Linked DNA regions of Homo sapiens. The protein of the gene in region 3 interacts with the protein of the main gene of each other region in a biochemical or structural test. Each region holds a gene or a part of one and is shown on either strand. Other genes may lie near its edges. The genes, in order: PPM1F, EIF4EBP1, LATS1, MTF1, MOB4, SMURF2 and DCAF1.

Evidence for each region.
Region 1: of the proteins of LATS1 (region 3) and PPM1F, one has a biochemical effect on the other in vitro, tested with the Homo sapiens proteins (one study listed by BioGRID).
Region 2: of the proteins of LATS1 (region 3) and EIF4EBP1, one has a biochemical effect on the other in vitro, tested with the Homo sapiens proteins (one study listed by BioGRID).
Region 4: of the proteins of LATS1 (region 3) and MTF1, one has a biochemical effect on the other in vitro, tested with the Homo sapiens proteins (one study listed by BioGRID).
Region 5: the proteins of LATS1 (region 3) and MOB4 form a complex in vitro, tested with the Homo sapiens proteins (one study listed by BioGRID).
Region 6: the proteins of LATS1 (region 3) and SMURF2 interact in a test that uses a peptide from one of them, tested with the Homo sapiens proteins (one study listed by BioGRID).
Region 7: the proteins of LATS1 (region 3) and DCAF1 form a complex in vitro, tested with the Homo sapiens proteins (one study listed by BioGRID).

The regions. Positions count from the first base shown.
Region 1 is NC_000022.11:21,942,849-21,946,348, forward strand, and holds part of PPM1F (protein phosphatase 1F), read right to left. Parts: intron 3,261-3,500; 5' UTR 3,201-3,260; coding exon 2,995-3,200; intron 587-2,994; exon of another isoform or gene 1-586. UniProt on the Homo sapiens protein: Dephosphorylates and concomitantly deactivates CaM-kinase II activated upon autophosphorylation, and CaM-kinases IV and I activated upon phosphorylation by CaM-kinase kinase. Promotes apoptosis.
Region 2 is NC_000008.11:38,054,534-38,057,699, reverse strand, and holds part of EIF4EBP1 (eukaryotic translation initiation factor 4E-binding protein 1), read right to left. Parts: intron 620-3,166; coding exon 440-619; intron 1-439. UniProt on the Homo sapiens protein: Repressor of translation initiation that regulates EIF4E activity by preventing its assembly into the eIF4F complex: hypophosphorylated form competes with EIF4G1/EIF4G3 and strongly binds to EIF4E, leading to repress translation.
Region 3 is NC_000006.12:149,676,602-149,680,101, forward strand, and holds part of LATS1 (serine/threonine-protein kinase LATS1), read right to left. Parts: coding exon 3,274-3,500; coding exon of another isoform or gene 3,266-3,273; intron 2,145-3,265; coding exon of another isoform or gene 2,081-2,144; intron 137-2,080; coding exon 1-136. UniProt on the Homo sapiens protein: Negative regulator of YAP1 in the Hippo signaling pathway that plays a pivotal role in organ size control and tumor suppression by restricting proliferation and promoting apoptosis.
Region 4 is NC_000001.11:37,849,593-37,853,092, forward strand, and holds part of MTF1 (metal regulatory transcription factor 1), read right to left. Parts: intron 1-3,500. UniProt on the Homo sapiens protein: Zinc-dependent transcriptional regulator of cellular adaption to conditions of exposure to heavy metals. Binds to metal responsive elements (MRE) in promoters and activates the transcription of metallothionein genes like metallothionein-2/MT2A.
Region 5 is NC_000002.12:197,519,066-197,522,565, reverse strand, and holds part of MOB4 (MOB-like protein phocein), read right to left. Parts: intron 1-3,500.
Region 6 is NC_000017.11:64,544,545-64,547,307, reverse strand, and holds part of SMURF2 (E3 ubiquitin-protein ligase SMURF2), read left to right. Parts: intron 1-969; coding exon 970-1,045; intron 1,046-1,360; coding exon 1,361-1,460; 3' UTR 1,461-2,763. UniProt on the Homo sapiens protein: E3 ubiquitin-protein ligase which accepts ubiquitin from an E2 ubiquitin-conjugating enzyme in the form of a thioester and then directly transfers the ubiquitin to targeted substrates.
Region 7 is NC_000003.12:51,420,016-51,423,515, forward strand, and holds part of DCAF1 (DDB1- and CUL4-associated factor 1), read right to left. Parts: intron 2,417-3,500; coding exon 2,292-2,416; intron 983-2,291; coding exon 1-982. UniProt on the Homo sapiens protein: Acts both as a substrate recognition component of E3 ubiquitin-protein ligase complexes and as an atypical serine/threonine-protein kinase, playing key roles in various processes such as cell cycle, telomerase regulation and histone modification.

The DNA.
Region 1 (3,500 bases), on a different chromosome or scaffold from region 3:
TACACAAGGCAAGAAGATGCTCCAGGGACAAGCCAAGGTGTATGCAAGGCCCAGGTGCCTGAGAAACACGTCTCACCGACCTTGGGGCAGGGGCTGTTACAAGAGGCTTATAGTCTAGTGGCAGAGACAAAAACCACACTCAAATCATTAGTGTACGGTATGCACTGCTCAGGGACTCAAATATGTGACAGGAGGCTCCAAACAAGAGCGGAGACAAGGCGTAAATAGCCCCCTGTGGACTGGATGTTCTGACTCCTGGATGGCCTCCAGAAGGATGCCTTTTACGGTCTGTGAAAGAGCTCAGGGACCAAGATGCTCAAAGCCCTTCATGCCCAAGAGCCCCTCCTCAGGCTGGGACACGGGAAGCAGAGCTCGGAGGTGGAACTCGTGACTGTGTATGGGCACATGTGAGTGCGTGTGTGTGGACAGCCAGGCTTAGTGTAGACAACGTGTGAGGCTCAGACCCCAAGTGCTGACTACACCTATGCACATCCACACCTGCGTGTGAAAGAAGATGCTAGAAAAGAACAAAAATAACTTAAAAAATAAATCCAATAAGATGGCTGGAACATATAACAACTTCAAATACTCCATTTTAGTTCACCATGTAAGGTGGGTTCCTGGGGGCTGAGGAGACTCGGGAGCTCTGCACCCCTCCTGCTCGCACCCATCACTAGGTGGCTCACACAGCAGCCGCTCAACAAGTCTGGCTGCTCTCGCATCAAAACCAAAACCCACTGCCCTCCCCTGCGCCCCCAGCACTGACCCCAACACTTTGGTTCGGGGCCCTCCTGGGCAGGTCACCTGCACTGCCTACTCACTCCTCAGCCCTCCAGGCCCTCCCACCTTGGATCCTTCCCTGGGACCCTGCTCTGCGCCCTTCTCCCCCTGCCCAGGAACTGAAGGCTGATGTTGTCACCCCGGTGCTGCGGCCTGTCCGTCTTCAGCACCTGTGCCCCACGCAGGCCCAGCAAACCCCTGGGCTCTGTTGTTCCCCGGGATGGCTTTTCCATCTGATCCCCAGCTTGGGGCTGGCACCGCTTGGCTTTGCCCGGTCACCTCATGCTTGGGCCAAAGTGCACCAACCCTTCTGTCCCGGGCCTGGCTTTTTGCCTCAAGGCAGCAATGGCCCCATGCCACCTCCACGAAGACCCAGTGGCTGCAGAACTCCCTGGTCTGGACTCCCCTGCTCCCTGCAGAGTGCCACCTGCTCCTCTCAAGAAGGCAGAACGTGAGGCCTTTCCTCACCTCCCGTGCATTGGCACCCCTGCTGGGCCCACTCTGCTCCACCACTGGGGGCTGATTCACTTTGTGCCACATATCTAAAATATTTCCTCAAAACAAGCCAATAACACCCTTTGCGCATGCCATGACCTCATGGAGCGTGGTCACCGGACATTTCCTCCTGAGCTCTAGGCAGCTGTGGGGGATGCTGGGTGGCATAGCCCTTGCATGTGGCTGACACTTAGCAATGTTTGTGCCCATGTTGCACAGGGAGAGCACAAGTCACTGACTCTGCTAGGGCCTGGGGTCAAGGAAAATAGGCCCTTGGTGGGTGTCAGGAACAGAGTTGATTCGCTGCAAGGGGCAAAGGAAGTGCACACTTGGGGGATACTGAGGCAGCCACCGAGGATGGTGGCTCTGTCAGAGGGAGCTATGGCTGAGGGCCTGTCATGGCTTCAGGTGATATTTCAGGTGATTTGGGTGATGCTGGGACTGGGGACCATGCGCACATCCCCTCAGCAAGGGACTAGGTTCACAGAAACAGCACGCGGCCCACCAGCCTGCTCACCTCCATGAGCTGTCCCCTGTGCCAGACAGACAGCCTAACTCCAAGACCCTGTCTGAGCAGAGAGGGTTCGAGAAAAGACCTTGTCCTTCACCATCTTTCATGGGACAAATGCTTCCAGAATGAATGAATAAATGAAGGGGAGGGCAAGGGTCTTCCAAGGAAAGGACCTCTGAGTTCAGCCTAGGCGACAGCTACACACTGTCTGCCGGTGGACACCCAACTCTCTATCTTCCCCGAAATCTGCTCGGCTAGTTGTGCTACCTCTCTGTGCCTCAGCTTCCTCACCTGTGGAAGGGGGACAGTGCCAGCTATCTCTCAGATCGTGGTGGCTGGGGTGCCATGTGGCTCTGCCACTCCTTGACTGTAAGGCCTCAGGCCAGCCTCTTCATCTACCCACCTCTGCCTCCTCGTCCATCACACGGATCGGAAACAGGACGTACTGCTTATCAGCTGCTATGCAATAAATTGTGTTCCCTAAAAGGTATGTTGAAGCCCCAGCCCCCTGTGGCTCAGAATATGATCTTATTTGGAGTTAAAGTCTTTGCAAATGTAATTAGTTATGTTCACATGAGGTCACATTGGCTGGAGTGGCTCATGCCTGTAATCCCAGCATTTAGGGAGGCAAAAACATGAGGATCCATGGAGCCCAGAAATTCGAGACCAGCCTGGGCAGCATAGCGAGACCCCATTCTCCACAAAAAGAAAGATGAGATCACACTGTAGGAGGGCAGCCCCTGGTCCAAAATGCCCATGTCCTTACAAGAGGAGGAGTCACAGACACACAGCAGGCAGGGTGGGGAGGTGTGAAGGCACAGACACACACATGGGGAGATGCCGTGTGCAACAAGGCCAGCTAGGAGGAATGAGTCTACAAGCCAAGGACCTCCAGGAAGTCAAGGCCAGGCACTAACAGAAAGGCAGACTCTTCCCTGCAGCCTTTGAGAGAGCATGGCGCAGCTGCCACCTTGATCTTGGACTCTGGCCTCCAGCCCTGTGAAAGAATGAGCTTTGGCTGTGTTGAGTGCCCAGTGTGTGGTGCTTTGCCATAGCAGCCACGGGAGTTCCACATGGTGCTGCATAGGGATCCGGGGCTGCAGATCCCCGTGTGGGGCTGGACGTGTAGGGGAGCAGCAGCCACATCCCTTGTCGGCCCTGGTGCCGTGCCCTTACTCCCCGTCCCCTTTGGGGGTGCACAGGCCTACCTGCTGCCCAGAAAGCCCATGGCCAGCTCAGCCAGCTCGCCCTCCACCTCCTCCTGGCTGAGCACCGTCCCTGGGGCCTTCCATGGCAGAGGGTCCTCTGGGTTCAGCAGGGCTGGGAAGTCTTGCAGGAGCGTGTCCAGGAAGCCTGGGGTCTCCTCAGCTCCACTGGCCATTGGGCTGCTCTTCTGTGGGGCTCCAGAGGACATGCCCAAAGCATCCCGGGGGCCTGCAGCTAGGCCAGGGCAAGAGGGTCTCCAGGCTTCACCCTGGGGAGAAATGTCAGAGTCAGCAGAATCAGGGGGCCATGGCACCAGCAATGCAGGTGCCCACCTGCAAGCACCATGTGGCAGGTGCATGGCCTCATGGTTCAGGGCCACTAGAGGGTGGAGGGACAACCCTGGCCACTGTTTTGACATGAGTCCAGGTGGGGACTTGTGGGCATCCAGAGATCCGGTCTCAGGAGATGGTGCCAGGAGCAGCAGCTGGGTGGACATTGTCAAGAAGTG
Region 2 (3,166 bases), on a different chromosome or scaffold from region 3:
TTCTTATCTTGTAGACATATAATTTCCCAAAGGACAAGTACACTGTGTCTTTGATAACTTGTCTCTTGCACCACAAACATCATGGGTGTGTTCCAAGTGGAAATGCTTCAGAGACAATTATACAGAGGCACATGCTTACGAAAGTTGCTGTGTGCAGCCGCTGCCATTTCAAACAAACTCCCCGCTAATTACATGACCCAAAGGTGCCAGATCACCTTTCCTGAGGTGCCTGGGCCCCTTTCAGGGGGAAAGTTGCTACCAATGAAGAGTTCAACCTCCCCACCCCTACTCTCACCCTCTGGGCTCTGAGCTGCTCCTTAGAGGGTAGGGCAGAGTCCCTGTTGTTCCTCCTCCCTGGAATTGCCCCCAGTGGATGGACTCCAGGAGCCTCATACATTCCCTTTCCCAAGGTAGAGCCTGGCCAAGCCCCGACACTCACCGCCCGCCCGCTTATCTTCTGGGCTATTGCGCAGGTGGCTCTGGCTGGCTTCCATGGGGGGCTCATCACTGGAAGGGCTGGTGACCCCCGGAATGGTGGGCAGATCCCTTGGGGGTGTTTTGGTCACAGGTGAGTTCCGACACTCCATCAGGAATTTCCGGTCATAGATGATCCTGGTACCTAGAAGGGAACAGGGAGGTTGGTCAAGCCATCTGCAGCCTCTTGCCTGCCGGTTTTTCCACTTTTTAAAGGCGTGGCTGCAGTAGAGGCAGCAGATTCTCCTGAAAAACCCAGAGGAGGCTGGGTGCGGTGGCTCATGCCCATAATCCCAGCACTTTGGGAGACCAACATGGGTGGATCACCTGAGGTCAGGAGTTCGAGACCAGCCTGGCTAACATGGTGAAACCCCGTCTCTACTAAAAATACAAAAATTAGCCAGCGTGGTGGTGGTAGCCTGTAATCCCAGCTACTCAGGAGGCTGGGGCAGGAGAATCACTTGAACCTGGGAGGCAGAGGTTGCAGTGAGCCGATTGCACCACTGTACACCAGCCTGGGTAACAGAGCGAGACTCCTTTTCATAAAAAAAAAAAAAAAAAAGCCAGAGTAGTGAGGCTTATTTGGGGGCCTGGCTGCCACCCAGAACTCTGCTACCTCCAAACGGCCCCAACTCCCCTTCACATGGAATGATCCAATGGAAGGGGTCTGCAGGCCACCAACTGCACCTGTGTCTTCCCAGAGCTCTGTGCACACTGTGCTCTGTCCCTATAGCCCCTCAGCTCACTCACCCACCTGGGCTTAGTGTTAATTACCCATGACAATCACATACCACGGTGGAAAAAATGCATTTCTAGTCATTATTCAGTCCTGTCCTTACAGCACTCCTGTGGGATACCCAGAATAGCTGCATTTTACAAATGACCAAACAGAAAATACTTGTGATTCAACCAGAGTAGTAAAAATAAGAACTTTTGCCAGGTGTGGTAGCTCACACCTGTAATCTCAGCACTTTGGGAGGCCACCGTGGGAGGACTGCTTGAGCCCAGGAGCTTGAGACTAGCCTGGACAACTTAGAGAGACCTCATCTCTACAAAAATGTTAAAATGAGTCGGGCATGATGGGTACGTGCCTGTAGTCCCAGCTACTCGGGAAGCTGAGACGGGAGGATTGCTTGAGCCCAGGAGGTCCAGGCTGCAGTGAGACCCTATCTCAAAAAGACAGTTCCAAAAAAAAAAGAGAGAAATGCCTGGGCTTTGCGGAGAAGAGCCAGAGGCAGGAGTGAAGGGTGGGCTCTCCTGCTGAGCCCCTCCTTTGTGAGGCCCCCAGTGTGTCCTGCCAGTGTGTCACTGACCTTGGAATTCTACCCCACCATCCCAAGTAGCTGGGATTATAGGTGCGTGCCACCATGCCCAGCTAATTTTTTGTATCTTTAGTAGAGACGGGATTTCACCATGTTGGCCAGGCTGGTCTCAAACTCTTGACCTCGTGATCTGCCTGCCTCGGCCTCCCAAAGTGCTGGGATTACAGGTGTGAGCCACCGTGCCCGGCCCCTTTGTATCTTTTTATAGCTACCTTCTATTTATGGCAAGTGAATCCGGTGTTCCATATATAGTAGTGATAGCAATTCCTTTTAATATACAATAATATAATAATATATTATAGATTCTATAATAAAATAATGTAAATTAAATTCAAAAGCTAAGGTGATATAAAGAAATATTAAATATCTGTACAAGTGGAATGCAAGGTATGGTAATAATTGTGCAGATAAAATATGAATAACCCAAGTTTGGGAATCATGATTTAAGGACTTCAGGAATGCCCTTCCTTAGCAATAACCTTGAAATCTCTCCTTCACTTAGGGGCTATGATGAGTAGCATTCCAACAGCTGAGATTCATTTCTTACACTTTATTTTACTTTTTTGATTTTTAATTTTTATGGATCCATAATAGTTGTACATATTGAGATTCATTTCTTGATGCTCAGCACTGGACTCTGTAAACCCCTGGAAAGGAACCAATTTCCATCTCGGAGTCTGAGTGTGAGTTCCTGAAACGGGGCTCTGTGCTGAGGATGACGTGAGATGCTGAAGGGCAGAGGAATGCAGAGAGATACCTAAAGATAAACTTCACCTGCTGGCTGTGTTCCTCTAGTCTGGCTGTGGCCCCTCCAGGCAGTCACTGGTCTTACTCTCCTGTCCCCTTGCAGGAGAGGCAGTGATACTGAAGCTGACAGCCCTGCTCATTGCCTATGGGACTCCAGCGCACAGCTGTTTCTTAGGAGGAGGGGTGTAAAGAACCAGGGTGCATTTGGGCTCCGTTCCCAGTCAGCTGTGTGACCCTATGCACCTTGCTCCTTGCACCCCCTGTTTTGGGCCTCCATCTCCTCATCTGTAAAATAAAGACCCATGCACCTTCTAGGTCTGAGTGCCTATGAGCCCAGATTACAAATGGAGAGCAGTGGTGCCCTCTCTTTGCAGGGCTGGGGTGACAGTGAGGGGAGGTAAGGGAAGACCAATTTCTAACTCTTTTTTTTAAAAAGTGACCCAGATTTGTTTTGGTTCTAGAGGCCAGATGTGGCACTGCTCCACTCTGCAAGGCTTGGGGTTGTACAATCTCTCCTCCCCAGAGGGGAGGGAAGCCCAGAGACCCCAGGGTCCAGGCAGCGGGGTGGGGACTCAGTGGACAAGTGGCTGGACATCCTGGCTCCAGATGGGACCACTTTTTTT
Region 3 (3,500 bases):
AAAGAATGTGCTAGACATCGCTGGTGCTGGCGTGCAGCTCTCCGCTCTAATGGCTTCAGTCTGTCTCCACATCGACAGCTTGAGGGATCCCCCCATTCATTACTGAAATCCATGCTATCTTGCCGTGGATGGTCACCTGCACAACAAAAGAATAAGTAAATAAAGTCAACAATGACAACAGTAAACCTGAAGTCTATTTAATCTTCTGACATCGTGGTTTAGGGTTAACAACATTCTCCCTTGTGACAAACTAAGACACAATGTATGCCAAATCACTGATGGTGTTTATTACCAATTAGAGCCTATTTTCTGAGATGTCAATAGGAAGGATTTTACACTTAAAAAAAATTAGCCTAAGATTTAGTAATTTATGCAATGTTAAATAACAACAATATGAGTCATGGGGAGATTAAGAGTTTGTTATTTAGCCCACTCCCTGTTACTACTCTGGACAAACTTTCAAACAAATTAGATCCATCTTTCATTCAATAAATGACAGTGATAATAAGACAAAGCTCTGGTTACATTCTAGTAGGAAAAGAAACAAAACAATTACACATATAAGGAACAGTGACATACCCTACACAGAGAATCAACACAGGGTGATGTAACAAATGTGACTGGATAGCTACATAAGACTGAATGGCTAGGGAAGACCAGTTAAGAAGGTGACTTCAGCTAAACCGTAAAAAAACAAGAAGGACTCAACCATTTATAAATCAGGATTAGGTATTCCACACAGAAATAACAGCAACAGAGAGAAGACCAGCACAGCTGATAAAGGGGAGAACTGTAGGAAATGGGGCAAGAACTGTAAGAAATGCGGCAGGAATACATGTGGGTTTTGCAAGCAATAGAAATGGTCTGCCTTTTACCTCAAGTAAAGTGAGAAGATATTGCAGAGTTCGAAGCAAGAAGATAACAGTATCTGATTTATGCTTAAAAAAAAAAGTTCTTTATGGGTCATGTGAAGTTTGAAAGGCCTATTTGAAATCCATGTGAAGATAGCCAGGAAGCAGCTGGATAGAGAAATTACGAATTTCAGAGAAAGGCCATTTCTGGAGAGAGAGATTTGGAATTCATTGACATATAGATGGCATGAAGTCACCTAGAATATAAGAAATTAACCTAACTGTAATATTTATCTGGGATGTTTGATTAAAATATGATTTCCCTTTGGGAGGCCAGGGAGGGTGGATCATGAGGTCAAGAGATTGAGACCATCCTGGCCAACATGGTGAAACCCCATCTCTACTAAAAATACAAAAATTAGCTGGGTGTGGTGGAGCACACTTGTAATTCCAGCTACTTGGGAGGCTGAAGCAGGAGAATCGCTTGAGCCCAGGAGATGGAGGTTGCAGTGGGCCGAGATCGCGCCACTGCACTCCAGCCTGGCAACAGACCAAAACTCCGTCTCAAAAAAAAAAAAACAAACAGGCTGGGCGTGGTCGCTCACGCCTGTAATCCCAGCCACTTTGGGAGGCAGAGGCAGGCAAATCATGAGGTCAGAAGATTGAGACCGTCCTGGCTAACACGGTGAAACCTGGTCTCTACTAAAAATCCAAAAAAAAAAAAAAAAAAAAAAAAAAAAAAATAGCCGGGCGTGGTTGCCGGCGGCTGTAGTCCCAACTACTCGGGAAGCTGAGGCAAGAGAATGGCGTGAACCTGGGAGGCAGAGCTAGCAGTGAGCCGAGATTGCGCCACTGCACTCCAGCCTGGGCAACAGAGCGAGACTCCGTCTCAAAAACAAACAAACAAACAAACAAAAAACAACAAAAAGATTTCTATGCCCCAGTGAAGATTTTTGATCAAAAGATGGGAATAGAGCCTAGGAATCATATTTTTAAGAAGCTTTCCAGGTAATAATTCAGTCGAATCTGGGAAGACACTAAATTCCACTATGTCGAACATTAAAGTAGGTTCAATTGTCTCAGTTCTACCCATTTTAATGTCAATCTACTTGTGTTCACAGAAGCACAGGAGGCTAATAATACTTACCTCAGAGAATTGTTGCGAGCATATTAGAATATATGGTTAAGCACCTAGTACATAGTATTTAACAAATGTTAGATTGACTTACACTTCCATTAGCGCTTGGAGGGATCTTGGTGAGGCAGTGTGGTGTAGTAGAAATAACATGGGCCCTGAAATCAGACAAACCTGGGTTCAAAGCCTAGCCCTTACACTTGATTTCTGTCTGACCTTGGGCAAGTTACTTCATCTAACTAGGTCTCAGTTTCTTCATCCTGCCTCACAGTGACATTGTGAGGATAAAATAGGATCAAGGATCATAAAGTGTTTAGGGTTATATAAGTTGTGTAACAGTCATGTAATGAAATCCTAAATAGTAGTGAAAATAAATGTTACAAGCAATAACATGGAGGAACCTCAAACAAGTCAACACAAAGAATATATATAGATTATATTTAAATAAAGGTTAAAGAGTAGGCAAAATGAAATAATATATTATTTAAAGATATACACATTTGTGATAAAAGGATCGATAAAAGTAAAGAACCGATTATAAAGTTCTGAAATAATAATTATCTTTGTGGAGGAGAAAAGGGGAAGTGATTGTTTAAGGGCTTCTAAAGTACTGATAATCTAGTTCTTTAACTGAATGTTGGATATGAGGATTCATTAAAAAATTATTTTAAAAATGTTTTTGGCCAGGCGCAGGGGGCTCACACCTATAATCTCAGCACTTTGGGTGGCTGAGACAGGTGGATCACCTGAGGTCAGGAGTTCGAGATCAGCCTGGCCAACATGGTGAAACCCCATCTCTATTAAAAATACAAAAATTAGCCGGGCGTACTGGCAGGTGCTTATAATCCCAGCTACTCGGGAGGCTGAGGCAGGAGAATCACTTGAACCCAGGAGGGGGATATTGCAGTGAGCCAAGATGGTGCCACTGCACTCCAGCCTGGGCGACAGAGCGAGACTCCATCAAAAAAAAAAAAAAAAAAAAATTGTTTGTCTGGCATATTTTCAAATAAAATGTAAAAGGTGTGACTCAAAAATGTTAATAATATTTAGAAACAATCAAGTCTAGCACATTCTTTCATTTCATAAGTCTAAACAATCAAGTCTAGCACATTCTTTCATTTCATAAGTCTAAGTGCCTAATGGAGTCACCCAAGTTTATCCAACAGAATCAAGACCTGACCCACATCTTCTGGCTCTCATCCAGTGATGATACCATCTTATATTTTACTACATCAATAAATTACATTATTATGAACAAACTAAAATAAATTTTATGAGTTTACTTACCACTCTGATAGTACTTAGAATCGTGTGTCCATCTGAAGCCAGTGCAGAGGCCAAAGTCAGTCAATTTAATATGACCATCACGATCAATCAAAATATTATCAGGTTTAATATCTCTATGAATAAAACCCATTTTATGAACACTTTCAACTGCACAGGTAAGTTCTGCTATGTAGAATCGTGCCAGACTTTCTGGAAAGATGCCCATTCTAATTAATAGGCTCATCATA
Region 4 (3,500 bases), on a different chromosome or scaffold from region 3:
AGGTCAGTTAGCCATGGAGGATACATCACGTCACCAATGTAGTGCAGACAGAGGTAGATGAACAGGTAACTAGACCGTCCTGGCAGGTTCTATGGAAGGGCACAGATTCAAGAATGGACTGCACAAACCAACTAAAGAAAACACAGTTGCCAGGTGTGGTAGCTCATGCCTTTAATCCCAGCAGCTCAGGAGGCTAAGGAGGGAGAATTGGTTGAGGCCAGAAGTTCCAGGTTACAGTGAGCTATGATGATGGCCTGGGCAAACATAGCAAGACCCAGTGTCTTAAAAAAATAAAATAAAATACGTAAACAAACAAACAAACAACAAGACGCAGCTGCTTCGAGACTTGGAGTAGAAAGGCCTTAAAGGGCCAGACATGGTGGCTCATGCCGGTAATCACAATACTTTGGGAGGCCAAGGTGGAAGGATTGCGTGAGCCCAGGATTTTGGAACCAGCCCATAGTGAGACCCCTCTCTACCAAAACAACCACCAAAAAGTAGCCGGCACAGTAGCACATGCCTGTGGTCCCAGCTACTGTGGAGGCTGAGGTGGCAGGACGGCTTGAGCCTGGGAGGTTAAGGCTGCAGTGAGCCATGATCGTGCCACTGTACTCCAGCCTGGCTACAGAATGGAACCCTGTCTCAACCAAAAAAAAAAAAAAAAAAAAAAAGCTTTTGTTTTTAGGCAGAATGAAAATATTTTGATTAGAAATTTTGCAAGCTGGCCAAGTGCCATGGCTCATGCCTATAATCCCAGCACTTTGGGAGGTCGAGGCAGGAGGATTGCTTGAGCCCAGGAGTTTGAGGTTACAGTGAGCTACGATCCCACCACTGTAATCACTCCAACCTGTGTGACACAGTGAGACCCTGTTTCAAGAGAGAAAGGAAAGAAGAAAGACAGAAAGGGAAAAGAAGGAAGGAAGGGAGGGAGGAAGGGAATGAGAGAGAGAAAGAGAAAAAAAAGGGAGAGAGAAAGAGAGAGAGAGAGAGAGAGAGATCTCAAAGCTACCAAATCAGTAGGGAGACAGTAATGAAATAACAAGTATGAGAATAAGATACGTGAAATTCGAGTCAGAATGACCAGCGGCCTTGTGGTAGGAAAAGACTATCTGTGGCAAGGTTCTGGTTGGTTTATTTTTTGCGCAAGACAAGCATGAAGAAAAGAAAATGAAGTAATAGGTAAGCCAACTCCACACTATATGAAACAATGAAAAAACCAGGAGTAAACAGGAAATTCAGGCTAAAATGTGACTCAGAAAATAAGCTGCTTGGGAAGCCAAGAAGACCAACTAGTTATCAAATGATTTGATTTCTCAAGAGTAACACCTGTGCATGGAGGGAAAAGAAAAAACCAAAAACCAAGCTGAAAAAAAACGAAAGGAAAAGGAGTAAGGAAGAGCTAAAGGATCATGAAGTCTGTTATCGAGTAGTCATAAACATCAGCCTCTTCAGGCCAAATAAGTGGATTTTAATGCCAAAATAAAATCACTGCCAAAACAAAAGCTAAGCTAAGACAGTGCTTCAGGAAGGCAAGCCTCCTGAATGTCTGGTCATTAAGCAAGATTTTCGAAGACTAAAGCTACTGCTACTTCTCCTTCAATCTCCACCCAACCCCAAACCTACTGATTTCAAGAATATAGCATCTTCCACAAAGGTCTCATGGATAGCATGGAAAAATGTGGGTGAGAGGAAAGTGGAGTGAGCTAAATCCCCAGCAAACTGAACAAAGTGCTCATAATATCCTTGACCCTGTGCTATTCAATATGATTATCAATGATCTGAAGACAAGAATGGCAAACCAGACTTGCAAATAGAATAAACCAATTTGAATAGTACAAAGTGGAAAAGTGACAGCTTTTCACTGATTGCATAATCATTCCCTCTGTACCATCTCCTCCTCTTCTGCCTAGATCAGCATTTCCCAAAATGTGTTCCACAAAACACTGATCCCTGGAAATTAGATCTGAAAAATGGTTTCTCAAGTTTAAAGCATTTGAAAAATTCTGTGTTTTCTTCCTTCTTAGCTGTTGGCACATCAAAGGCTCTGAGAAGTCCTAATCAACAAATTTCTGTCTTGGTTTAACTTAATGTTTCCCGAACATTCGCTCATGAAACACTTTCACACAGTAATCACTGATGGAGGATGGCCTAAAGTTTAGGTCCTAAACTATGTCCAAATTACCTATGCTAAACAAAAATGATTCAATCTCCTTGAGCTAGCTACTACTGCCTCATCACTCTTCTTCCTCTAACTACCAAACTTATTTAAAAAAAAAAAAAAAAGCCAACTTGACATTTCCTGCCTCCTGTTTCCTCATCACTCACTCACTTCTTCATCACTCAAAACCTGGCTTCAGCCCCAGTGCTCTGCTGCAAGTCTTCTCATGATATGTGAACAACTGCACAACCAGCACAACTAAAGGCTTCTTCGGGGCTCCTCAATCCCTCTGCAGGGTCACACAGGAATATTCTCATTTGTTGACACTCTCTTCCTTCAGCTTCCACAACACTGCAGTCGACCCATCTCTTTGACTACTGTGATCTTCTTGGGTTCCTCTTTCTCTTTCCAACCCTTAAATTCTCAGGCCAACTCTTACTTCTCCCTTAAGTAAACTACCCACAGTTTGAAGGCCCCTTTCTACTACTATTCTAACTCCAAACCATTTCTTTGACCTCAGATACACGTTTCCAATGAGCTTTCCATTTGTTCATGTTACTTTTCTCCAAGGACTATACATTCAATACACTCCTACCAAACTCTTTAATTACCCCATCAAAACTTTTTCCTTTTCCCATCTTTCTTGATTCCTATGAATGGGATCACCATTTGGAGGGTGCGGAGAGCAGAGTTAGCCACTTTCTCCTCAGCATGCACACAGCACTTCGAATACACCTCTGTTAAAATATCTACCACAACGGACTCTTAACTGCTTAACTCTTCACCTAGATTTGAGCTCCATCAAAAAGCTGTGCTAAGACACAGCAGAAACTCAACAAATTTGGGAAAATGGATGAATCCTTTCAATCAACATGATTCAAAACCTTTTTTTTTTTTCCAACCAGATTCTCATTTTGTTGCCCAGGCTGGAATGCAGTGGCACAATCATGGCTCACTGCACCCTCCGCCCTCTGGGTTCAAGTGATTCTCCTGCCTCAGCCTCCCAAGTGGCTGGGACTACAGGCATGCACCACCACAACCGGCTAATTTTTGTATTTTTAGTAGAGACAGGGTTTCACCATGTTGGCCAGGCTGGTCTAGAGCTCCAGACCTCAACTGATCCACCTGCCTCTGCCTCCGAAAGTGCTGGGATTACAGGCATGAGCCACTGTGCCTGGCCTATTCAAAACCTTTGAATCATGCCCAACTCATGGCTCATTCATCAAACTCCAATAACACGTACGAAGTTCTCTCGTACTTCTACAAAAGTCCTTGATTCTTCCCATGAACAAGGCCACTATCCTTTCTTCAGATTTAAATGAAACCCCAAACATAAACTACA
Region 5 (3,500 bases), on a different chromosome or scaffold from region 3:
TGAGGTCAGGAGTTCGAGACCAGCCTGGCCAACATGATGAAACCCCGTCTCTACTAAAAATACAAAAAATAGCCGGGCATGGTGGCGTGCGCCTGTAATCCCAGCTACTCAGGAGGCTGAGGCAGGAGAATTGCTTGAACCCAGGAGGCGGAAGCTGTGGTGACTCAAGATCACGCCACTGCACTCCAGCCTGGGTGACAGAGCAAGACTCCATCTCAAAAAAAAAAAAAAAAAAAAAAAAAGGTAATCACCCATGGGTACAAAAAAAATAGAAAGAATGAATAAGACCTAGTATTTGCTAGCACAATAGGGTGACTATAGTAAAAACCAATTTAATTGTACATTTAAAAAAAACTAAAAGAATCTAATTTTTTGCAACATAAAGGACAAATGTGTTGCAGGAAGTCAGGGACCCCAAACTGAGGGACCGGCTGAAACCACGGCAGAAGAATGTGGATTGTGAAGATTTCATGGACATTTATTAGTTCTCCAAATTAATACTTTTATAATTTCCTATGCCTGTCTTTACTGCAGTCTCTAAACACAAATTGTGAAGATTTCATGGACACTTATCACTTCCCCAATCAATACCTTGTGATTTCCTAGGCCTGTCTTTAATCTCTTAATCCTGTCAGCTGAGGAGGAGGTATGTCACCTCAGGACCCTGTGATAATTGTGTTAACTGCACAAACTGTAGAGCATGTGTGTTTGAACAATATGAAATCTGGGCACCTTGGAAAAAGAACAGGATAACAGCAATTGTTCAGGGAATAAGAGAGATAACCTTAAACTCTGACCACTGGTGAGCCGGGCGGAACAGAGCCATATTTCTCTTCTTTCAAAAGCAAATGGGAGAAATATCGCTGAATTCTTTTTCTCAGCAAGGAACATCCCTGGGAAAGAGAATACACGCCTGGGGGTGGGTCTATAGACGGCCCCCTTGGGTATGGCCGTCTTCTATGGTCGAAACTGTAGGGGTGAAATAAACCCCAGTCTCCCATAGTGCTCCCAGGCTTATTAGGAAGAGGAAATTCCCACCTAATAAATTTTGGTCAGACCGGTTGCTCTCAAAACCCTGTCTCCTGATAAGATGTTATCAATGACAATGGTGCCCGAAACTTCATTAGCAATTTTAATTTTGCTCTGGTCCTGTGGTCCTGTGATCTCGCCCTGCCTCCATTTCCCTTGTGATATTCTATTACCTTGTGAAGTACGTGATCTTTGTGACCCACACCCTATTTGTACACTCCCTCCCCTTTTGAAAGTCCCTAATAAAAACTTGCCGGTTTTGCAGCTTGTGGGGCATCACGGTACCCACCGACATGTGATGTCTCCCCCGGACGCCCAACTTTAAAATTTCTCTCTTTTGTACTCTGTCCCTTCATTTCTCAAACTGGCTGATGCTTAGGGAAAATAGAAAAGAACCTACGTGACTATCGGGGCAGGTTCCCCGATACAAATGTTTATGGTGATGGATACCCCATTTACCCCCCTGATGTGATTATTATACACTGCATGCTTGTATCAAAATATCTCATGTAACCTACAAATATATACACCTACTATATACCCACAAAAATTTTAAAAAGAGAAGGAAACATCAAATAAACCAGCTTTCTGTTAAAGGGAATATTTTTATTTCTTCTTCTTTTTTTTTTTTTTTTTTTTTTTTAAGAGACGAGGTCTCACTTTGTTGGCCAGGTTGGTCTCAAACTCCTGGTCACAAACAATCCTCCAGCCTCAGCCTCCCAAAGTGCTGGCATTACAAGCATGAGCCACCATGCCCAGCTTAAGGGGGATATTTTTATAGAGCATCTTGCCCTGGTTCTGGAATTCTCTGTAGATAATACAGTTAACAGATATTCCCCTAAGTGATTAAGAACCTTTCCATTTGACTGATTTTTCAGAAAAGTTTACCTATGTAACCTCAGTGGGTAGCACAATGCCTGACACATCTTTGAAGCTCAAATGTCTCTGAGGTAAAACTTGGTGGGGAGGAGGTAAGAGTAAACCAATAATCTATAAACCTGTATATAAACCTGTAAAAACAATCAACAAAGATTAAGTCTTCAAAACCTTGAGCAAAAAAAGCAAATTAGAAGTAAACACAGTGTATATAAAATGAATAAAGTTTAGGCCGGGCGCGGTGGCTCACGCTCAGCACTTTGGGAGGCCGAGGCAGGCGGATCATGAGGTCAGCAGATCGAGACCATCCTGGCTAACACGGTGAAACCCCATCTCTATGAAAAAATACAAAAAATTAGCCAGGCGTGGTGGTGGGCGCAAACCCAGGAAGCGGAGTTTGCAGTGAGCCGAGAGTGCAGCACTGCACTCCAGCCTGGGAGACAGAGCGAGATTCTGTCTCAAAAAAAAAAAAAAAAGTTTAAGTGCAAGGCATACTTATGGATATAATGCATATATAGTAAAAGTATACAGAAAAGAAAAGGAATGATAGGGTAGAAGACAGAGAATGTCTTCCATAAGGATTCAACTATAGTAGCAATGTCCCCGTTTGGACAGTAGGTAATGAGTACACCTTTTTAAGTGTCTTAAACATTTCATCTTTTTTGAAATAGCTGGCCTATCTGGATGAAAATGAACTAATTTTATTAAAGGAAAATATCAAGAAATAAAACAATCTTCTAGAAATGGTTCCAGGATTCCTTTTCTTAGACATTATCTATTAAAGAGCAATTCTAAAATTTTTCCTATATGATCTAAAGTTTCTACCAATACTCTGTCTATTCTTTCCTTTTTAAAAAAACTAAGGAAGTTTACAGAATGTTGTTTTTAAAATATTAGAAAACACATGTACAGTTGGCCCTCCATATCTGCAGGTTTAATCTGCAGATTCAATCAACCAGGAATTGAAAATATTCATTTCAGGGGAGAAAAAAAATACAGAAAATGTTATATTGTTGCTGACATGTACTATGTACCTAGTTAGGTCTAAGATAGTTGCGTATGTACTAAACATGTACCGGCTTTCTTTTTGGTCATTATTCCCTAAATACAGTATAACAACTATTTACAGAACACGCATTGCATTAGGTATTATTAAGTAATCTAGAGTTGATTTAAACTATATAACAGAATGTGCATAGGTTATATGCAAACACTATGCCATTTTACTTAAGAAACTTAAGCATCCTCAGATTTTGGTATGGGGTGGGGGTACGGAGTTATCCTGGAGCCAATCCCCAGAGGACACCAATGATGACTATATATAGAAAAGATGTTGAGAATGAAATGTTTCGCCTTCTCATAACTGTGACATATTTTAGATGCCTATGAGAGACACCAAAAATTCAGCTTAATAAAGATTCTCATCTAATTCAACCAACAAACATTTATTGAAAACCAACTATGAAGCCCAGCGTGGTGGCTTGCGCCTGTAATCCCAGCACTTTGGGAGGCTGAGGCGGGAAGATCACTTGAGGTCAGGAGTTCGAGACCAACCTGGCTAACACGCTGAAACCCCATCTCTACTAAAAATACAA
Region 6 (2,763 bases), on a different chromosome or scaffold from region 3:
GTAGGGAAGTCGTTCACTTCCATGTTCACATCTTGACCTGGTGAAACGTTTACCTGCCTGGGATGCCTCTCCCCTCTACTTTTCGTTCTTTCTCTTATTAGACAGAAGCAGCATGGGTCATGGAAACCATCTGTTCGGTCAGAGCATTTTAATTACTGCATGGCATCAGACCATTTGTTTACAACCATATTCCTTTTTTAAGAATGGTTTTCTGTGGAATAAGCTGGTTAATTTTGGGAGGAGCTGGTAATATTGCTAATGATTGTGGTGCTTCACTGGGTGGCAGTTGCTTCCTTTACCTCTTAAGCACTTCATTTTCAAAGCTGCTGGTGATGAATAAGGACACACAAAGCGACACTGGTACATAATTCGACAGTGCTGCCCACAGCGCATGCGCTGAAATCCCTGGGGGGAGAGCGTGCTTTCAGCTGTGCTGCCCTTCTCTGTAAGGAGAGCTCCTCATCCTCACACTTCCCAGATGCATAAAGTGAAGTTGTATTTCTGCTACATGTATTTATATGGGGTGCCTGTGCGAACTGAAATGGATTCTATAGACGGCTCTTTTGCTGTCAGCCCAGTTTGAGTCATGAAATCTAAATTTGCATCAGGTCGTCATCTTTTTGAATGTGTGCCTATGTATTTTACCTTGGATTTGCCTGATTACTTTTCTTCTCATGCTTTTGGGATATTGACTTTCTATAAAAGATAGAAATTGAGAAAGGGATTTCAATCTTGAGTTTTTTCTCAAATGGAAATGTGAACCTATTACGGAATCTAAGCCTTATCCAAGGTTAATTCTGGCTCTTAAAACCCAGATGCTTTTCCTGCTGCCCTTTGGTAGTATGTGTGGATTCATTAGCATTCCCCTATCCCCAGATCCTGTGGTTAACTTACCAGTTTTATTCTTAAGATTTTGGAGACTAATGCACGCACCTGCAGTGATTTCATCCACATTTCCTTCATTTGCAGGTGCTGCAGGCCCGAGACTCTTTACCATACACCAGATTGATGCCTGCACTAACAACCTGCCGAAAGCCCACACTTGGTAAGGTATTTTTGTAGCTGTATTCCCCATTCCATGTACATAAGTGTTAGTTCCAAACAGATTTGACTTTTTATTTATTGTACTTACTAGTGTTAAATGGGCCTTTAAAGGGAATGATAAGCAACTTAAGTGATTTAAAAGTTAAGATTATTCGGAAATTGGTAGGAAAACCCAAAAGTGGTCATCTCTGTTTTAGAGAAATACCTTTTAGTTTTCTGTGTGACACAGAGTGATGTGGCTATACTGGTATACACTTGCTAGGCCAGTTTACTTATTTTGAATGAACTGTATAAAATTTGATTTGCTTATTCACAGCTTCAATCGAATAGACATTCCACCCTATGAAAGCTATGAAAAGCTATATGAAAAGCTGCTAACAGCCATTGAAGAAACATGTGGATTTGCTGTGGAATGACAAGCTTCAAGGATTTACCCAGGACTCTATTTATACAACCCTGACTGACAGCCTCCTTTCAGCAGAGTTTCAAAGAATATGCTGAAATACAGGAAAACACTCCCCCCCCCCCCCTTTTTTTTTTTTTTTTTACATTTTAGGACACTGTGAGGGGAAAGGACAATTTTGAAATTCCTTTTCAAGGAAAAAAAAGGTCTTTATGCTTTGCCATGAGGCCACATTCAGCTGCTATTTAAACTTAATATCTTGAACCTAAAGAATGCTGACTTTTCCTACATTTCCAGAGTTAGGCAGTATTCTACACTTAAAGACTACTACTATTTTTATAAAAGGTAATCTATTCAAATTTCTTCACAGATTTCAAGTCTCTCAAACATCAAGACAACTTCAGCAGTCGGTACAAGTCACATTTCATTTTGATTGAATACATGATCTTGAACAGCTCCTGTACTTGCTCTTTGTAAAAAAAAATAAAATTATTTTGAATTATTCTACCTTTGTAAACAATTGGCTAAAAGAATCATCTTTAAGAAATTAAGCCATTTACATGTTTGTGTTTTTCTATAGCAGAGCATTATATTTTGCATTATATGTTTCAACCTAGTCTAAGTGGGTCTTTTTTACATTTTTCAAGAACGGATTTCCTGGAATACAGCGATATAATTTTGGTTGTCAAATTCCTAATGCAACCATTTAGTCTAAACTTAGTCATTTATTTGTGACAATAAGATGTGTTCAGGGGCTCCCTGTTTTTAAGAGACTCTTTTAAAAAAAAAAAAACCTAATGTTTTTATCTTGAGTCAATATGATTAGGTATTTTGGATTTACTTTTAATCTTAAAATACTGCATTTTTATAGCTTCTCAGAGCATGTGGATGGGATGGGATTTTCGTTATTTTGCTGGGTCAGCTTATCTTTAATATATGGACTATTCCTATAAACCAAAGTCTCTGACAAGTGCACCTAATTTATATTGTATTTTAACTACAGTGTAAGTTTCCATTAACAAAACCATCCTAAAGCGTTAACTGCTCATAATTTTAATCAGCTACAGTTATGAAAAAGGAAGAATTTTGCTCTAAAGATTATTAATAAGCTTAGAAAATCCTGCTTTTACCTAACAGAATGAAGTGGGGTTGAGGGGCGGTAGTATGAACAGTGATTCTAACTCTATGGCGTAAATTACTTTGAAGAGTTCATTTTGGAAGTAAGGGAATCCCGCTTCCCTTGGTGTTGAAGATCTGCATCTGATTTTGAAACGTCCAGATTTAGCTTTCAAGGTGCGTGCATGTTGAATGATCCA
Region 7 (3,500 bases), on a different chromosome or scaffold from region 3:
CTGTAGGCACCATGGTCCGACTTCTGCCGCAACACTCTGATTTTCCTGCCATTGCAGGGTGATGGCCTCTCTCTGATAAAACTGATTCTACCAATCAAAGGGGAGTTGCCTGCATAAGATGGGCCGGGCAGAGCTAGCGGACCCTGGGGGGGCCGTGGCTGAGGATGAGCAGTAGGGGCAGAAGGCGCAGAGGCACCCACAGCAGCATGGCTGCCCAGACGAGTTGCAATGCCATTAGCGATACGAGGGGTTCGGGGTAGAGAGACAGGAGAAGCAGCAGCAGTGACTGGGGTAAAGGCAGAAGAATGGGAGGCAGCAGTCATGGGCAGGTCAGCCTCTTTTGTCAGCACGGTTGCTGTTTCTCCAAGCCCTTTAGAAATAAGATGGTTTCGTATCAACAAAAGCAGCTCTTTCTCAGGGAAGGAGATCCTTGACTGGGCAACAACATCTGCTTTCTGCAGTCGTGCTAGGGAAACATCAGTGCCAATGAGAAGTGGTTTTCCTGACACCCGTTCAATGAGTTCAGCAGCATACTTGCAGAACTTGACATGGTCACTGCGCTTGTCCTGCAGCACAGGCTCCTTCATCAGCTGCTGGATCTGGCAGCTGCTGAAAAGGGGCAGTTTACTGATGATCTGCCGGACAGTGCTACTGCGAGACAGGCCCACTAGGGCTTTGCAGGCCAGGGCCCGGATTTGGTCTGCATCTGTGATGGGCATCTTAATGGACAGTAAGGACAGGAGCACCTTGATGCCGTTGTTGGACTGAACCACATTCCACATCTTGGCCAGGGTGTGCTCACTGCTTTTAGGGTTCTGAGGCAGCTTTCTCCGAGGAGTACCAGAGATAAATTTACCAATACTGGATATTCGGTTATCTGGGCCACACACACAATTGATGATAATCTGAAGTGCTGACTTCTGAATTTCAGCATCATGGATGAAGAACTCACCCTCAGCCACTCCCAAAATAATGCTGATACCTAATGGGAAAAAAAATTATGTATTATTCACCATAAAACTAATGGCCAACTTCAATAGTTGTTCCAGAGTCAAAATTTGGTGTTCTACTCACTTTTACTTTAAAAAACTATATTACTTTTGTAAAAACTGCAAGGGTTTGTATAAAGTGCAGACAGTTCTACTACAATGTATTTTTATGGTATCTCATATGCAGTTATTAAATAGGGAAATCATGTCATAATTATGGAAAAGTAATCAAGGTTCATGTGCAATTTTTTCTGGTTTTATTATTTTTTTGAGGCAGAGTCTCGCTCTGTCGCCCAAGCTGGAGTGCAGTGGCGTGATCTTGGCTCACTGCAACCTCCGCCTCCCGAGTTCAAGTGATTCTCCTGCCTCATCCCTGCAAAGAGCTGGGATTACAGGCGCCTGTCACCACGCCCAGCTAATTTTTGTATTTTTAGTAGAGGTGGGGTTTCACCATGTTGGCCAGTCTGGTCTGGAACTCCTGACCTCAGGTGATCCACCCGCCTCGGCCTCCCAAAGTTTTGGGATTACAGGTGTGAGCCACTGTGCTCGACCTTTTCTGGTTTATTAATTTTAATACACTAAAACCTTAGGAACGGAGAAAGCCCTCGGTTGGGCTGCTACTGTGGAAGCAGAACCCTTTCCACTCTATTTTAAGAAAATTAAAAACCAAGTGCCTGTGTCTTAGTCCTATCCTGCATCTTGTCCCATCACACGACTTCCCATGCTCACCCCAGCAGTGCCCTGATCAGCCTTGCTCTTAATAAAGTATATTATCAAAGTATATTTTCCTTTTTTTATATATGTATGACGGTTTCTACCCATTTTGAGCTACCTGCCAATTACTGACTCAGGTTACAAAACTGCTTACTTTGTTGTTTTTTTTTCCCTTTAACTCCTGGAAAGCTGTGATGCTTAAGTTTTTTACTATCTGCCTCAACCCATTTTTCCCATGAACTTTATTTTTAGTGCAAGACTCTTCAGAGTGTGAGCTTTTCAGGAAAGCTATAATATACCATTATAGCAGAAATGCCAGTACCACTCAGAAAACCTGAGTTTACTAGCATGACTCCCTTACATCAAACTATCTGGTCCTACATTTGTATTTTTGTTTTTTGGTTTTTTTTTTTAAATTAGTTCCTGATCTGCTGAATGGTACTCCTTATAAAGGACAGACAAGGAGCCCCCCTCTACTACTTCTGTTCTAAAATCCAAAATTAGGTCAGGTAAGTAACCAAGACCAGAGTGGCAAAGAAAAAACAAATCCAGACCAAGAAACAACAAAAATGGCAAAGTACAACCTACCTACAGTAGAGACTGTAGATCCAGCCTCATCCAACACGTCCACTGATTCTGCCAACTGGAGCTGGATTTTTGGCACCACAGTAAGAATAGCCAGGACATCCAAAGCAAAGCGCACAGTGTCATTCCTGGACAGGAAGAATTAGTCAAAGGGAAATTAGAGTATAGCCACAAGAATCAAGAGAGACAGAGAGAGAGACACACAGACAGATAGACACATACACACAGAGACAATAAATCAGAAGCACTACCAGTGTGGCTCTATCTCAAGCTGTCGCATCAAGAGAGGATTTTATAGTCACCATGACATTACTTCCAAAAAATATAGCAATGGAATTTTTACCTATTAAACTTCTATGATAAAAAACATAGAATAATCCTGAATCCTTTCATCCTAGTGAAAACATATAGAGACACGTACTCTCAAAGTTTTGGTGAGAGTAGAAATTAGTACACTCTTTCCAGAAAGTAATCTGGAGGCCAGGCACGGTGGCTCAAGCCTATAATCCCAACACTTTAGGAGGCCAAGGTGGGAGGATCACTTGAACCCAGGAGTTTGAGACCAGAATGGGCAACATGGTTTTATCTTTTTCTATAAAAAAAAAATATAAGATATTAGCCGGGTGTGGTAGCACGTGCCTGTAGTCCCAGCTTCTCAGGAGGCTGAGGTGGGAGGATCACCTATGCCCAGGAAGTTGAGGCTGTGGTGAGCCGTGATTACACCACTGCACTCCAGTCTGGGCAACAGAGTGAGAGCCTGTCTCGAAAAACAAAAAAAAAGAAAAATGAAAAAAAAGAAGAAAAAGAAAGTAATCTGGAAATATGAAACAAGATTCTTAAAATGTTCATAAACCTTGTCCTAGAAATTTCACCTCTGACAATCTGTCCTAAAGAAATAATCAGGCCAGGGCCAGGCGTGGTCTCATGCCTGTAATCCTAGTGCTTTGGGAGGCTGAGGCGGGCAGATTGCCTGAGCTCAGGAGTTCAAGACTAGCCTGGGCAACATGGCCAAACCCTGTCACTACTAAAATAAAAATTAAAAAAATAAATTACCCAGGCTTAGTGGCGGGCGCCTGTAGTCCCAGCTACTCGGGAGGTTGAGGCAGGAGAATTGCTTGAACCCAGGAGGCGGAAGTTGCAGTGAGCTGAGATTGAGCCACCGCACTCCAGCTCGGGCCACAGAGAGAGACTCTGTCTCCACAAAAAAAAAAA